Linked DNA regions of Homo sapiens. The protein of the gene in region 2 interacts with the protein of the main gene of each other region in a pairwise test. Each region holds a gene or a part of one and is shown on either strand. Other genes may lie near its edges. The genes, in order: ZNF365 and NDE1.

Evidence for each region.
Region 1: the proteins of NDE1 (region 2) and ZNF365 interact in binary tests that used the Homo sapiens proteins (3 or more experiments, as listed by UniProt).

What each region holds. Positions count from the first base shown.
Region 1 is NC_000010.11:62,369,478-62,377,609, reverse strand, and holds the start of ZNF365 (protein ZNF365), read right to left. Parts: upstream 3,242-8,132; 5' UTR 3,152-3,241; intron 2,740-3,151; exon of another isoform or gene 2,483-2,739; intron 1,430-2,482; 5' UTR 1,417-1,429; coding exon 674-1,416; intron 1-673. UniProt on the Homo sapiens protein: Involved in the regulation of neurogenesis. Negatively regulates neurite outgrowth. Involved in the morphogenesis of basket cells in the somatosensory cortex during embryogenesis.
Region 2 is NC_000016.10:15,646,056-15,653,349, reverse strand, and holds the start of NDE1 (nuclear distribution protein nudE homolog 1), read right to left. Parts: upstream 3,106-7,294; 5' UTR 3,056-3,105; intron 1,335-3,055; exon of another isoform or gene 1,300-1,334; intron 1-1,299. UniProt on the Homo sapiens protein: Required for centrosome duplication and formation and function of the mitotic spindle. Essential for the development of the cerebral cortex.

The DNA.
Region 1 (8,132 bases), on a different chromosome or scaffold from region 2:
TCTTTGCAAGTGGGCAAAACTTAAATATAACAAAAAAAAATACATCATTTGCCAAAAAGTCAAGTCTCAAACTTAAATCATAGAAGTATAGCAATATCAGAAAGTCTTTCCTCTGGGTGCCCTAATGTCTGCTTCTCCCAAATATAAATTAAATTAAATGGATTCTCAGCTACTAACATTTAATTAACCTGGGCAGATAATACAAAATGGCAAATAAACCAAACTTATTTATACTGGAGGAATGTTTTTGAACTTAAGACAGCATCTTGCATTGACTTTATAATACGGAGACTGTCAAGAATGAACAGCTCACTTAGCTCACCCTTTCTGCCTTCCCATTCAACTCACCCTTGCACGCCATTTGGTGCTAGGAATGGATCCCACCATGGCTAGGCTGTGCTAGTCTTCTCTCTAAAAGCATAGTCTGTGGTTTACAAATTCCCAGTTGAGAAGGAATTAGATATTTGACTTTAATGCTGCTAGGTTGCAGACCGTGCACACAGAGGGTAAATGATATCAAAGCCTTGTTCCTCCTGGTTCAACTATATCAATAAGAAATGCAGTCAAGGCACCTGCAAATAGCAAAAATCAACCTTGCTTAGCATTTGCTTGTAAGGCGATTGGGGTGCTGCTTAAAGCAATGGGGTTAGCATCCCCTGTCAGCAACACTTACTCTTCTTTCCTAAGAAGCTCCTCCTCAGATTCCGTCAGGCGTTGCCTCAGTACAGCTATCATTTCCACGGCCACGTCCACCTGTCTGTTTAAGGCCCGCTCTCGTCTCTGAACTTCCTGCTTTTTCTGAGTCAGCTGCACAAAAGCTGCCCGAACTTCCAACAGTTCCGCAGTTTTCTGGGCCAACTCTTTGGTGAGTTTATCAATTCTCTTCTCAATGGTCCTATCCACAGCCTCAACCATTCGATTGAATTTTTCTCTGACATGTGCCTCGAAAGAAGCTTTGGTGTCTGAGGTGGGCAGTCCAGGACCCGACCGTGTCCCATCCAGCGAGTCTGCATGGAGGTCCATGGCAGTGTAGGTCTGCACATAGGACACAGGCCTCTCTGCCACCACCTCAAATGGCTTCCTGTCCTTGGAATGTTCATGTGAAATGCTGTACAAGTTAACATAGCTCGGTTTCTGCTTTACCACGTTGCCACTGCTCTGCAATTTTCCCGGTTTCAGGAGTTCTGAGGAAGTGACTAGGTCTGTGTCTTTGAGGGATGGAAAGAGACTGCATTTTGTCAAGAGGGTTCTTTCTTCGTAGCTGTGACTGAACTCCAGATGGGCCCTCAAGGATGACAAGCTTCTAAATCTGGTATGGTCTCCACACCTCGGGCAGCGTAATGGCAGGCACACAGCAACATTCTCAAAGGACTCCTGCCAGGGATATCTGCTTTCCTCAAAAGCCTTCTGTTGCATTACTCTAAAAGTCCTGGGAGGGGGGAAATAGGTAGTTTACAAGTCGGCTGAAAAACACACTACTAAAATGATTGCTGCTCATCTCCATGACAGCAGAGGCTTTTTGGTTTCAAGTGACTTTTGCACATAATATTTTATGTTGCACTTAAAACCTACAGCCCATGGGCCAAATCCATCCACATCAATTTCTGCATTATTTACTGCTGCCGTATCAATTTCTGTATTATTTATTGTAAACCACAATGGCAGTGGTGAGTAACTGAGACAGAGACTCTATGCTCCTAAAAGCTAAAATATTTACTACCTTTACAGAAAAAGTTTGCCAACTCCTACCTAGAATCAAAAAGGTGGGTAACATTCCCTCTCCACAGAAGAGAACACTGAAGCAAGGAAGTAAAGCCATTAATCCAAGGTCAGATGGAAAGTGGTAGATCCAGAAGTGGAATTCAAGTTTCCTCCCCTCCTGAATTTGGCACACTAAATGCAAAACCGTGCCCCATTTTAAGGATACAATCCGAGATGCGTGAACACAAGAACATATGAAAACTCACATGAATTGTCAAAATGGGTCCTAAGACAGCAAGCTCAGGACCTATCCTCAAGTACAGGAAAGATTACTCAAGCTATGCACAGTGGCATTAAGCCTGCAATCAGCTGAAAATTTTTCACCCTGAAATTTTTGCCTTTTTTTCCTTCAGGTATTGCTGTGATGACATAAACCAAAGTGCTAATCGTAACAATAACAGACCCCATACGTGAGTTTCACTGAAACCTGGGGACCCAATGTGTCAAATACCATTTGGCATAAGTGGGGCCATGGCCAAGATTTTTATTATAATAGAGTGTTCTGGACGGATTTGTCTTGTCTCAGATGCTATTTTATATGACAACCTCTAGGGATGGTCAGTGTGTGAACCAGGTAGGTATCAGCATACTCTCTTAATAACAGGAAGTTCTGGTTTCCTTGTAGGAATGCATTATCTTCACCCTAGCAACAGATGACTGTTGGCAACCCAATTCTGCAAGCAGTGCATATCTTCTATTCCTCCATGAAAGGTTTCTACTTAAATGTAACAAGCATTGGACCCGAAATGAGGGAGCCCAGCTGGGGTCTTTGGGTGAAAAGTGTCCTCAACCTCTTCAAAAGCAGAGGTGCAAATGGTCCCCAGGCAGCGAGGCAGGCAAGGCTTCTAGGTGAAGCCCCCGGCCCCCAGAGAGGGGAACCTCTTCCTGTGATGGGTACACCGGGATGTTTAACCACTGGTTTTCTGGGAACGAGATGCAAACCCTGGCTCAGCATAGGGCCAAAGACGCTGACAAGAGGTAAGGAAAGGGGAAGTCAGGATTCTAAGGGGGCAATGGGAAAAGGGTGGCATTTTGGATGGGGAAATGGGTAATCACACACTCCAGAGCACGCAGGCTTTTATGGGCCCAGAGGAAACCCAGTCCACTGGGCTGATGAAGAGCCCTAAGTGACTCTGCCAGAGAAGGGCAGGCTGGCAATGACCCTGCCCCGGGGTCCCAGCTCTCCCCGCCCCCTCTCCGCTGCGTGCCAGCCCACGGGTGCCAGAGTGGATTCGTGTGCACATGAGTTCCTGCTGGTGGGGGCCGGGAAGCCGGCTCTCCCAACTCCCCGCCATGCTGCGGGCTCGGGGACCCCCTCCCCAGCCCCGGCCACCCCGGCAGGTCCCCTCCGCCGAGCCGCGGGCGCAGATGGCCGGCGGCCGCCTCTTACCCGACTTGTTGCTGCTGCTGCTGCAGCCGCCGCCTCCGGTGCTGATGCTGCGGGAGCGAAGCGGTTTTCAGCAGAGCCGTAAATCAGACTGAGCCGGGCCGGCTCCCACTCCCCGCCGCACCTCCGCGCCGGGACCGGCGGCGTCCAGGGCGGAGCGAGGCGCGGCTAGCCAGCGGGGGCGGCGCTCGCGGGCACCGTGGGGCACCGCGCCGTGGGTGCGGGGGTTCCGGAACGCCGCGGCCCAGGGCTGCCACCTCCGCGGGGAACACCCTTGCTCTGCCCAGCTGGCGGGAGCATCATCTGCCCCCCCGCCACCCAGCCGGGAGCCCGATCCGACTCAGGATTACACTGACATCACTGCGAGAGATGCTGGGATCATTCCCCGGGGGAGGGAAGGAAAGACGCGTGTCAGCCTCGCAGTCGCGGCGCTTTCTGCAGGCCCTGGCAAGCTTTTTTGCACTAGTTTGGGGGGAGCGGGAGAGTGTGGATGAGGATGCAGCATAGCTGGGCATCTTCTTTGAAAATCTACCCGTTGGAAGGTCCGGGTATTTAATTAGGACCTCTTCATCCCAAGCAGCAGGGCGAGAATGTCCCAAAATAACTAACCCAGAGAGTACACTCCAGCCTTCCTAGCCAAGTGTCCTGAGGCTACGTTAACAGGCAGAACTAAATCTAGTAAAGTGCAGGGATTAATGAACAAACAGTTAAAGCAACAAGATCCCTCACCTACACCCCCATTTCTGAGGCGGACGCCCCTTTCCCTGGAGAAAAAATTTGTCCTCCTAAAGAGGGGATGTCCTGAAGAGAAGACGGCAAATCATTCCTTCTGAAGGACTCTGATGTCTCAGCTTGCTGGGCTTTTGCTTTTTTTTTTTTTTTTTTTTTTTTTTAACCTGTTTTGGTTTACCCCTACTGTAACTCCTGAAATGTGAAACCTAGATAAAAGTTACTGCTGGGTTTTCTTGTTCAAAGAAGAGAAGAGATTCTGTTCATCTGTAGACAGTTAATGCATCCTCTTGACTTCTCAGGGTGTCTTTTCTCAAGGCTTGCTGTTACTCATTTCAACACCCGATTTTATTTTAACGGTAAAGAGCTCAACAGTTATCTTAGTTGAAATTTTGTTTTGTTTTTGACAAATGAAAACAAATGAATTGCTTTGTTTTTTCACAAATGAATTATCACATCAAATGCAATGAAGATCCCAAGCTCTGGCATCAGACTTGATTCAAATCCTGGTTCTAGGGCCTGGGTCAAGTAACTAGACTTTTCTGTTCCTTCAATTCCTCATCTATGAAATGAAGATAATCAAGACCTACCTCTTAATATAGCGGTGGATCGAATGTGCTATGATGATGGAGGTAAAAACCCTGCCTGACAGGGACACACACTGATAAAGTCAGCTGTTATCGTTGTTGCTACTTCATTTATAATTATTATTAATTCCATAAAAAAGGGGCCTACACACATTTAAAAAGCAGGAAGGAGAAGAGGAATTAATATGTACTAACTTCTACGTAAATGGAGATAGGCTATTGTGCTGGGGTGTGTTTGCTTTGAAAATATTATATCTCATTGAAGTTACTTTTTGACTCGCTCTCAAGACTATTCCAAGAATCAATTTATTTAGTACAAAATCTTAAAGTCTGAAAGATACACTCATTGGAGTGCCAAGTTATCTCCGTCATCTTGTGAGGTGCCTGCAGGTTAACCTCTTACACCCACTGCCTTCATGGCAAAACATAACAAAAGCATGCTCTGGTCCTCCCTTCCCCCCCGCCCCTTTTTTTTTTTTTTTTTTTTTTTTGAGACGGAGTCTCACTCTGTCTCCCAGGCTGTAGTGGCGCGATATCAGCTCACTGCAACCTCTGCCTCTTGGGTTCAAGCGATTCTCCTGCCTCAGCCTCCCTAGTAGCTGGGATTACAGGTCCCTGCCACCACCCGGCCAATTTTTGTATTTTCAGTAGAGACGGGGTTTTGCCGTGTTGGCCAGGCTGGTCTTGAACTCCTGACCTCAGGTGATCTACCGGCCTCGGCCTCCCAAAGTGCTGGGATCACAGGCGTGAGCTACCGCGCCCAGCCAGCTCCTCCCATTTCTTAGACAGCTGCTACTTCTTTTTTGGTCCTAAGTTCCTCCCCTGTTAAATGAGAGGATGGAGATTTTCAAAGTCCTTTTCTCACCCTAAAAATATAAAATATTATCAAATAATTATGGAGAGGTTATTCTGTGCAGGGCCTAAAGCTGAGTATTGTGGGAAATTCAACTTGGTCAACAGGCATTTAGGACCTTAAGTGGTTCTCAAAGTGTCACTTGTGTATACCACCAATTACCTCATTTAATCTTTGAACACCTGTGAGGTAGGGAGGACCTTGTACACTCAGTTCTAGCCACCTTGGCATCCCTTTACTTAAGAGCCCTGCTTTTTCCCGTCTCTAGGGCCTCTTTATCTGGTAATGCCTACTCATCCCTCAGAGCTCATCCCAAGTATGCCCTCTCTGAGGAGGTCTTCCCTGACACTCCTGGACAAGGTTAGTGCGTACTAGGAAAATTTATTATGACAGGATTTGTCACAATAATTCTATGTGCTGGGTTATGGATGTAGTTGTCTGTTTAATATTTATGTCCACTGTTAAGTTGTAAGCTATGTGAGTCAGGGTCCTTGTCTGTCTTACTCTCCAGTATATTCCCAGGACTTAGCACAGTGCTGATCAAAGTGCTCAAAAAATATTTGTTAAAAGAATGAATGCTGAAGAAATAAATCCCCTTTCTACATAGGAGGAAACAGGCCCAAAGAAGTTAAGTAACTTTCTCAAGATCACAAACCTAGAACACATTACAGCCAGGATGGCAAACCCTGGGCTTTTAACCACTGTACTCATTGGCTTTCCAGTTTTTGATGAAGAAAATAAAGTTCTAGGAAGTAAAGTGACTTGCCTAAAGTCATATAGGTAATAAAGAATAAAATCAGGGTTAGAGTTCATGTCTTCAAACACTGATGTTTTTCTATGCCACATTATGCTGTTTTACTCTGCCCTCCAGGCACTTACAACTAGTGGAATGAGAACAAGGCATATATATATGATAGATATATGAGATATATATCATATATATGATAGATATATGAGATATATATCATATATATGATAGATATGAGATATATATCATATATATGATATATATATGAGATATATGATATATATATCATATACATGATATATATGATATATATATCATATACGTGATATATATGATATATATATGATATATATATCATATATATATCATGTATATGATATATGATATATATATGATATATATGATATATATGATATATATGTGATATATCATATATATGATATATATATGATATATATGATATATATGATATATATGATATATATGTGATATATCATATAGATGATATATAATATATGTGATATATATGATATATATGATATATATGTGATATATATGATATATATGATATATATCACATATGATATATATCATATGTGATATATATGATATATATCACATGATATATATCACATATGTGATATATATGATATATATCACATGATATATATCACATATGTGATATATATGATATATATATCATGTGATGTATATGATGTATATGGTATATGTGATGTATATGATGTATATGGTATATGTGATGTATATGATGTATATGGTATATATGATATATATGATGTATATGGTATATATGATATATATGGTGTATATGATATATATGATATATATGGTATATATATGATATATATGATATATATGGTATATATATGCATATATATGGTATATATATGATATATATGGTATATATGGTATATATGGTATATGAGCATATATATGGTATATATGAGATATATATGGTATATATGAGATATATATGATGTATATGATATATATGATATATATGATGTATATATGATATATATGATGTATATATGATATATATGATGTATATGATGTATATATGATACGTATCATATATATGATATATATATGATACGTATCATATATATGATATATATATGATACGTATGATATATATGATATATATATGATACGTATGATATATATGATATATATGATACGTATGATATATATGATATATATGATATATATCATATATATCATATATATCATATATGTATGATATATATGATATATATACTATATGGGATATATATGGGATATATATGATATATATGGGACATATATATGAGATATATATATGGGACATATATATGAGATATATATATATATGGGACATATATATGAGATATATATATATGGGACATATATATGAGATATATATATATGGGACATATATATGAGATATATATATATGGGACATATATATGAGATATATATATATGGGACATATATATGAGATATATATATATGGGACATATATATGAGATATATATATATGGGACATATATATGAGATATATATATATGGGACATATATATGAGATATATATATATGGGACATATATATGAGATATATATATATGGGACATATATATGAGATATATATATATATGGGACATATATATGAGATATATATATATGGGACATATATATGAGATATATATATATGGGACATATATATGAGATATATATATATGGGACATATATATATATAGAGAAGTTAAATATATGTTAAAATGAATTAAATGGGAAGTGTCTATAGGGCCTGACATCATGCCTGGCACATAGTAGATGTTCAATAAATGTTTGCTGAATTGTTAATGATCATAGCTCTCACCTTTAGAGTAATTACAATGGATCTTACTATATTAAATGTTTAGGCACATATCCAGTGTTTCTCAAAGTGGGACCTGTGGAGCCTGTGGAGCTGGTCAAAATGCAGATGTCTGGAACCTTGACCTAATAAATTGAAATCTGTAGGTGTGGATCTTGAAGATCTGCATTTTCACCTATCTCCCCAGGT
Region 2 (7,294 bases):
TCTGTCTTTGTGCTTTCCAAGTTTACAATGATCAACCTACAAAAATACTTAGGCAGGCAAGGACCCATGTTCAAAGATGCACACCATCATTCACGAATGTGGAAAACTGGAAACCTCAATGTCAACAGAGGACTGAATGGAAAACGATGCAGTTGTTAAGAACTGTAAGTACTAATATGGAAGAAAGCTCAGGATATGTTAAAAATGGGTGCCCATTTTTGTTTATTTCCCTCTCTCTGTACACAGAATAGAAAAGGGTCTGGAGGATGCACCAGAATGGGGGTAAAGCAAGCCCTGTGGATTTGTACCTGACACCTTGCTTTAAGGTAAACTACATACACATATATACAGTAAGCATAGATCGCTTTAGAGATTTTAAAAAGCTTAGGCCAGGCGCGGTGGCTCTCTCCCACCCCGGCACGTTGGGAGGCTGAGGCGGAAGGATCGCTTGAACCCAGGAGTTCGAGACCAGCCTGGGCAACATAGTGAGACCCCAATCTCTACAAAAAATTTTAAAAATTAGCCAAGCATGGTGGCATGTGCTTTTAGTCCCAGCTACTTGGGAGGCTCAGGCAAGAGGATTGCTTGAGCCTGAGAGGTCGAGACTGCAGTGAGCTGTGATTGCATCACTGTGTTCCAGCTTGGGCGACAGAGTGAGATCCCGTCTCAAAAAACAAACAAACAAAAACTTGGACAAAAAGTAAAATAGCTATTGTTCCAGGATAATTTTATTCTACTGAACCAAGTGACAGGGAAAGAATTTTTCCTACTGTGGTTTTGCCTCCTCCAACCCTTTTCAAACATTTCTTGAATACCTACTAAGTGCTGGGCACTGCTGAAGGAGGCAGACAAAAAGCACCCACATCCATTGCACGAGGTGCACGTGTAGTACTAACTGCAGGCACAAACTTTCTGTACACAGGAATGCTCATGTTAGGAAATTACCTTGTGAGGAAAAGGAGTGTCAATTCTCGGCTCACATTCTAAGGCAAAAGAACACACTTTGGGCTGCATGCAGTGGCTCATGCCTGCAAGTAATCTCAGCACTGTGGGAGGCCAAGGCAGGAGGACTGCTTGAGCCCAGGAATTTGAGACCAGCCTGGGCAACAAAGCAAGATTCTGCCTCTACATAAAAAATAATAATAATGATAGAGTCGGGTGCAGTGGCTCATGCCTGTAATCCCAACACTTTGGGAGGCTGAGGTGGGCAGATCACGAGGTCAGAAGTTTGAGACCAGCCTGGCCAATATGGTGAAACCCCATCTCTACTAAGAATTAGCCGGGCATGGTGGCACGCACCTGTAATCCCAGCTACTCAGGAGGGTGAGGCAGAAGAATCACTTGAACCCGGAGGACTGAGGTTGCAGTGAGTCGAGATCATGCCACTGCACTCCAGCCTGGACAAGAACAAGACTCCGTCTCAAAATAAATAAATAAATAAATAATAAATAACACACTTTGGAAACAAAAATAAGTCAAGTTAATAAACTGTTATCCAACATGGGATAAAATATATGAATCACAGGCCCCTGAGACTTCAGCGGCACAGATCATCTGCATTTAATCCTACACAAAACACACACTAAGAGGAAAGGCTCAAAATGGGTTGTAGGCCGGCACGGTGGCTCACGCCTGTAATCCCAGCACTTTGGGAGGCCGAGGGGGCAGATCACGAGGTCAGGAAATCGAGACCATCCTGGCTAACACGGTGAAACCCCATCTCTACTAAAAATACAAAAAATTAGCCAGGCGTGGTGGCACGCACCTGTAGTCCCAGCTACTCCGGAGGCTGAGGCAGGAGAATCGCTTGAACCCGGGAAGCGGAGGTTGCAGTGAGCCAAAATCGCACCACTGCACTCCAACCTGGGCGAGAGTGAGACTCTGTCTCAAAAACAAAAACAAAAAAAAAAAAAAAAAAACGGGTTGTATACCAACGAGGTGATGGAGGCTGGGGTGGTCGGGTAACAAGAGGCTTTAGGAGTAGCTGGGATCTAATTAATCTTCAAAACACCCGACCCATGTCCTAAAATGCCATCCTATGCTAGAATACACTATAACAAAACTAAAAATGATGAACCTGCCTAGGTCGTGCTGCAAAGGCCTTTTCTTTAGAAAGTTAAAAGGGGCCTGAGGCTCAAAGTAGAAATTAAGAGGCACAACCTGGTAGTAACCACGGACAAAGCAATCAAGGAAGCTCAGGCCCTCAGGAGGCAGAAAGCCTGAGATGGCTCGGAGAAGATAAAGTCGCCTCCCCAAAAGCGGTGTCAAGGTGACAGCGGGGTTTCCCAGGACCTCAGAGACTCAGGTCCTCAGTGAGCCCAGCCATCACTCAAGCTGCGGAATAAGCATTTTCGTCCTTTACCCAATCCCTCCCCAAAGTGCTGTCAGAAGAAACCTGAACCGTCCTGCGGCAGAGACGGGAGCAAAGCGGAGAGCAGACTGCCCCAAACGTGTTCCCGGAGGGAGGGAGCAGGGTGGGTTTTTGGAAAGAGGCCTGCAGGGGCGGGACAGTGGGTGTGAGGGCAGGGGCAACGCTGCAATCGAGGGGTCTGGGGTCGCAGAGAAGCGGGTGGCAGGATGGAGGAATAGGAGAGAGAGAGAAAAGAAACGAGGGTCATCTAGGAGAGGAGTATGGGGAGGAAGGAAGAGGAGAAAGAGGATGGAGCCTGGCAGCGGGGTTTGGGGACCGGCAAGGCTTAACCACCCAGGAAGTCCCGGAAGGAGAAGAGGGCAACGGGGTGGGAGAGAGACCAACGCAGAAAGAGAAACAAAGTTGCCAAGGGCGAGGGGCCAGCGCGAGGAACGCACCGGTGGCAAGGCACTCAGTGCCTAACTTTTTAGGACGGGAGGCTCCAGGGAGGCGGGATTTTGGAGCCCAGGGACCGGGGGAGTCCAGGCGGCCGGGAAGCGACGCGCAAGCGAGGGGCGTAGGGGTCCCTGCCAGGCGGTGGCCCGGGGTCCCGGGATCCTGGGGCGGGGCAGAGGAGCTTTTCAGCCGCGGTGGAGGTCCCCGGACAGCCACCCCGACCCCAGCCCCGCGCAGCGCCTCACTTACCCGAGCAGGGGCGGCGAGGCCAACGCGGCGGCGGCGGCAGAGGCGGCTGCGAAGGGCGGTGCGGCCCCGGCCCTCCGGACCCCGCCCCCGCCCCGGAGCCTGCGGTCGGCGCCTCCCATTGGCTGCTGCTCTACGGTACCGCGTCCGCCTCGGCCAATCAGCGCAGAGCAGCGTCGTTTGGAAACTTTTTTCCCAGGCCGGGCGCGGCGCGGCCAAGCGGCGAAGGCTCCTGGCCGGAGGGGGTTTGAGAGGCGCCGGCTGCCGGGCGCTGGGCTGCGGCGGGCTGGCGGGCATTGGAGATGCTGCAGAACGCTGCCTGGACACCCGGGAAACGGGTTTGGGCTTGCGGGCCGCGCATTTCAGGAAAATACGCCGGCCTCTCCTTCACTTCGATTGCATTTTCCCATTCTTGCACTTTCTCCAAATCAGAAGGAAAGACAAAGATTCAGGCCCACTGAAGCTAGCAGTGCCCCGTGCCCTTCCTACTCCTTTACACCAAAAGTAGAATCTTCAGCATCATTATCTTCTCCAGAAGCAGGAGAACGTAGTGCACCAGAATTTGGTCATAAACTTGGCTTTGAGTCCTAGTCCTGCCCCTTACTAACTGTGTGGTCTTGGGAAAGTTGTTTAGCCTCTATGACTCCGTTTCCCCATCTATAAAACGCCATTATGGGTCTGGCGCGGTGGTCACGCCTGTAATCCCAGCACTTTGGGAGGCCAAGGCGGGTGGATCACGAGGTCAGGAGTTCAAGACCAGCCTGGCACATGGTGAAACCCCGTCTCTACTAAAGATACAAAAAATTAGCCGGATGTGGTGGCACGCACCTGTAATCCCAGCTACTCAGGAGGCTGAGGCAGGAGAATCACGGGAAACCGGGAGGTGGCGGTTGCAGTGAGCCGAGATCACACCACTGCACTCTAGCCTAGGCGACAGGGCAAGACTCCGTCTTAAAGAACAGACAAACAAACAAACGACATTATGCAGAGGACTAAATGACTTAACAGCATTTGTAAAAACGTTTAGAACAGAAATTTGAACTTAGTAAGTACAATATATGTATTTGTTAAATGATCTTGATTTTGTTTATTTATTTATTTTGAGATGAAATCTCCCTCTGTCTCCCAGGCTGGAATGCAGTGGCGTGATCTCCACTCACTGCAACCTCTGCCTTCTGAGTTCAAGCAATTCTCCTGCTTCAGCCTCCCGAGTAGCTGGGATCACAGGCCCGCATCACCACACCCGGCTAATTTTTATATTTTTAGTAGAGACGGGGTTTCACCATGTTGGCCAGGCTGCTCTCGAATCCCTGTCCTCAGGTGATCCACCCACCTCGGCCTCCCAAAGTCCTGGGATTACAGGCGTGAGCCACCACACACTGCCTGAAGATCGTGATTTTTAAATGGCTGTGTGTGCCAGGCACAATTCTCACAGCAACCCTAATTGTTCACTAACAAATTAAAATTAAAAAATAATTTTTTTCTTTTCGAGACAGAGTTTCCCTCTTGTTGCCCAGGCTGGCGTGCAATGGTGCGATCTCGGCTCACTGCAACCTCTGCCTCCCAGATTCAAGCGATTTTCTTGTCTTAGTCTCCCTAGTAGCTGGGATTACAGGCGCCCACCATTACGCCCAGCTAATTTTTTGTATTTTTAGTAGAGACACGGTTTCACTGTGTTGGCCAGGCTGGTCTCGAACTCCTGACCTCAAGCAATACACCTCAGTCTCCCAAAGTGCTGGGATTACAGGCGTGAGCCATGTAACTCAGAAGGCAGAGGTTGCGGTGAGTGGAGATCACGCCACTGCATTCCAGCCTGGGAGACAGAGGGAGACTTCATCTCAAAATAAATAAATAAATAAAATCAAGCCACCATGCTTGGCTGGAATTTCTTTTTTTCTTTATTTTCTTCTAAAACATCCTGTCATAACATGTTCATTAACAAATACCGAACATTCTGGTTAGTGGGTACAAAAATAGAGTTAGAATGAATAAGATCTAGTATTTGGGAGCACAGCAGGGTGACTACAGTCCACAACAATGTATTGTACATTTTAAAATAACTAAAGGAGTATAATTGGAGTGCTTGTAACACAAAGAAAGGATAAATGCTTGAGGTCATGGACACCCATTTACCCTGATGTGATTATGATGCATTGCATGCCTGTTATCAAAATATCTCATGTACCCCATAAATATAAACACCTACAGTGTACCCATAAAAACTAAAAATATATATATTATTATCCAGCTTTTTTTTTTTTTTGTGAGACAGAGTCTCACCCTGTGACATAGGCTGGAGTGCAGTGGCATAATCAAAGCTCACTGCATCCTGGACCTCCCAGGCTCAAGTGATCCTCCCACCTCATCCTCCGGAGTAGCTAGGACCACAGGTGTGCACCAACACGCCCAGCTAATTTTTACATTTTTTTGTAGAGACGTGGATCTCACTATGTTGCCCAGGCTGGTCTTGAACTCCTGGGCTCAAGTGATCCTCCTGCCTCAGCCTCCCTCCCAAAGTGCTGGGATTATAGGCATGAACCACAGCACCCGGCATTATGAGCATTCTTCTGTACAATGCACCCTTACAGCACAGTGAATACAGTCAGACAAAGTACCTGTCCTCAAAGGGCTTATATTGTTAAGAGAGAAACATACTAAATCTATAAGCAGAAAAAGTAACGTCATTTCAGATACTGATAAGTGCTATGACTAAGGCAAGCCCATTTGATACAACGGGCTGGGAGGGGTCACTTCAGATGCTATAGTCAGGGAAGGCCACTGTAGAGAGGAGACCATGCAACTGAACCACAGGTGATGAACCACAGGAAAGCATTAAATTGTATCCATGTTAAAGATAAGAAAATAAAGGTGCAGGAAGTTAATTGAGTTGTCCGAGGTCTTACAACTAGTAATTAACAAATCAGGCTTCAGAGCTGGCTCTGACTCCTAAACCCTCCTTCTTCAGCACTATGCTAGAGGCAAAGAGATCTTAGCTATTACAGGATCTCCCACCCCATCTTGCCTTCCTGCTATCCTACAACAGCCTTTCTCAAATTCTACTTTGAACTCCTTGCTAATTCCTAAAAACTGCTTAGAGGCACAAAGGGGAACCCCACCACCTATCAACAGGTTTAAGGAAAGTACCAAATGTCTTTCAGGAAACTTCCCAAACATTAATGAATCATTTACATGCTGCTTCACACTTTACTACGTCTGATGCCTTCCCCCTTGGAATTTTATTTTATTTCGAGACAGAGTTTCACTCTGTTGCCCAGGCTAGAGTGCAGTGCTGCAATCTCGGCTCACTGCAACCTCCACCTCCCGGGTTCAAGCGATTCTCCTGCCTCAGCCTTTCGACTAGCTGGGATTACAGGTGTTCACCACCATGCCCACCTAATTTTTCTATTTTAGTAGAGGCAGGGTTTCACCATGTTGGCCAGGCTGGTTTTGAACTCCTGACCTCAAGTGCTCCACCCGCCTCAGCCTCCAAAAGTGCTGGGATTACAGGCATGAGCCACCACACCAAGCCTCCCCTTAGGAATTTTATTACTTATTTACTTATTCATTAAGATGGAATCTCACTCTGTCGCCCAGGCTAGAGTGCAGTGGTGCGATCTCGGCTCATTGTAACCTCCACCTTCCAGTTCAAGCGATTCTCCTGCCTCAGCCTACCAAGTAGCTGGTATTAACCCCCCTTGGATTTTTTTTTTCTTTTTTTTGACGGAGTCTCGTTCTGTTGCCCAGGCTGGAGTGCAGTGGCACGATCTCGGCTCACCGCAACCTCTTCCTCCTGGGTTCAAGCGATTCTCCTGCCTCAGATTCCTGAGTAGCTGGGATTTCAGGTGTGCACCACCACGTCCAGCTAATTTTGTAGTTTTAGTAGACACAGGGTTTCACCATGTTGGTTTGGCCAGGCTGGTCTCGAACTCCTGACCTCAAGTGATCCACCTGCCTCGGCCTCCCAAAGTGCTGGGATTACAGGCGTGAGCCACTGCGCCTGGCCCCCCTCGGAATTTTATTTGGCCCTAACCACTCTGTGACGTTTCTGGACAGGAACTAATCACCTCAGCTTACAGAGAAACCGAAGCACAAACTGATGAGGTACTGGTGTTGCCTAAATGGCTTTGATCAAGGTATTTAAACTAGTTGGTTCTCAATTTCCCAAATTTTCCATAAAGAAAAAAGAGAGGGCATTGAAATAATAATCCTTAAAGTCCTATTTGGGAACAACATTTAGGGAAA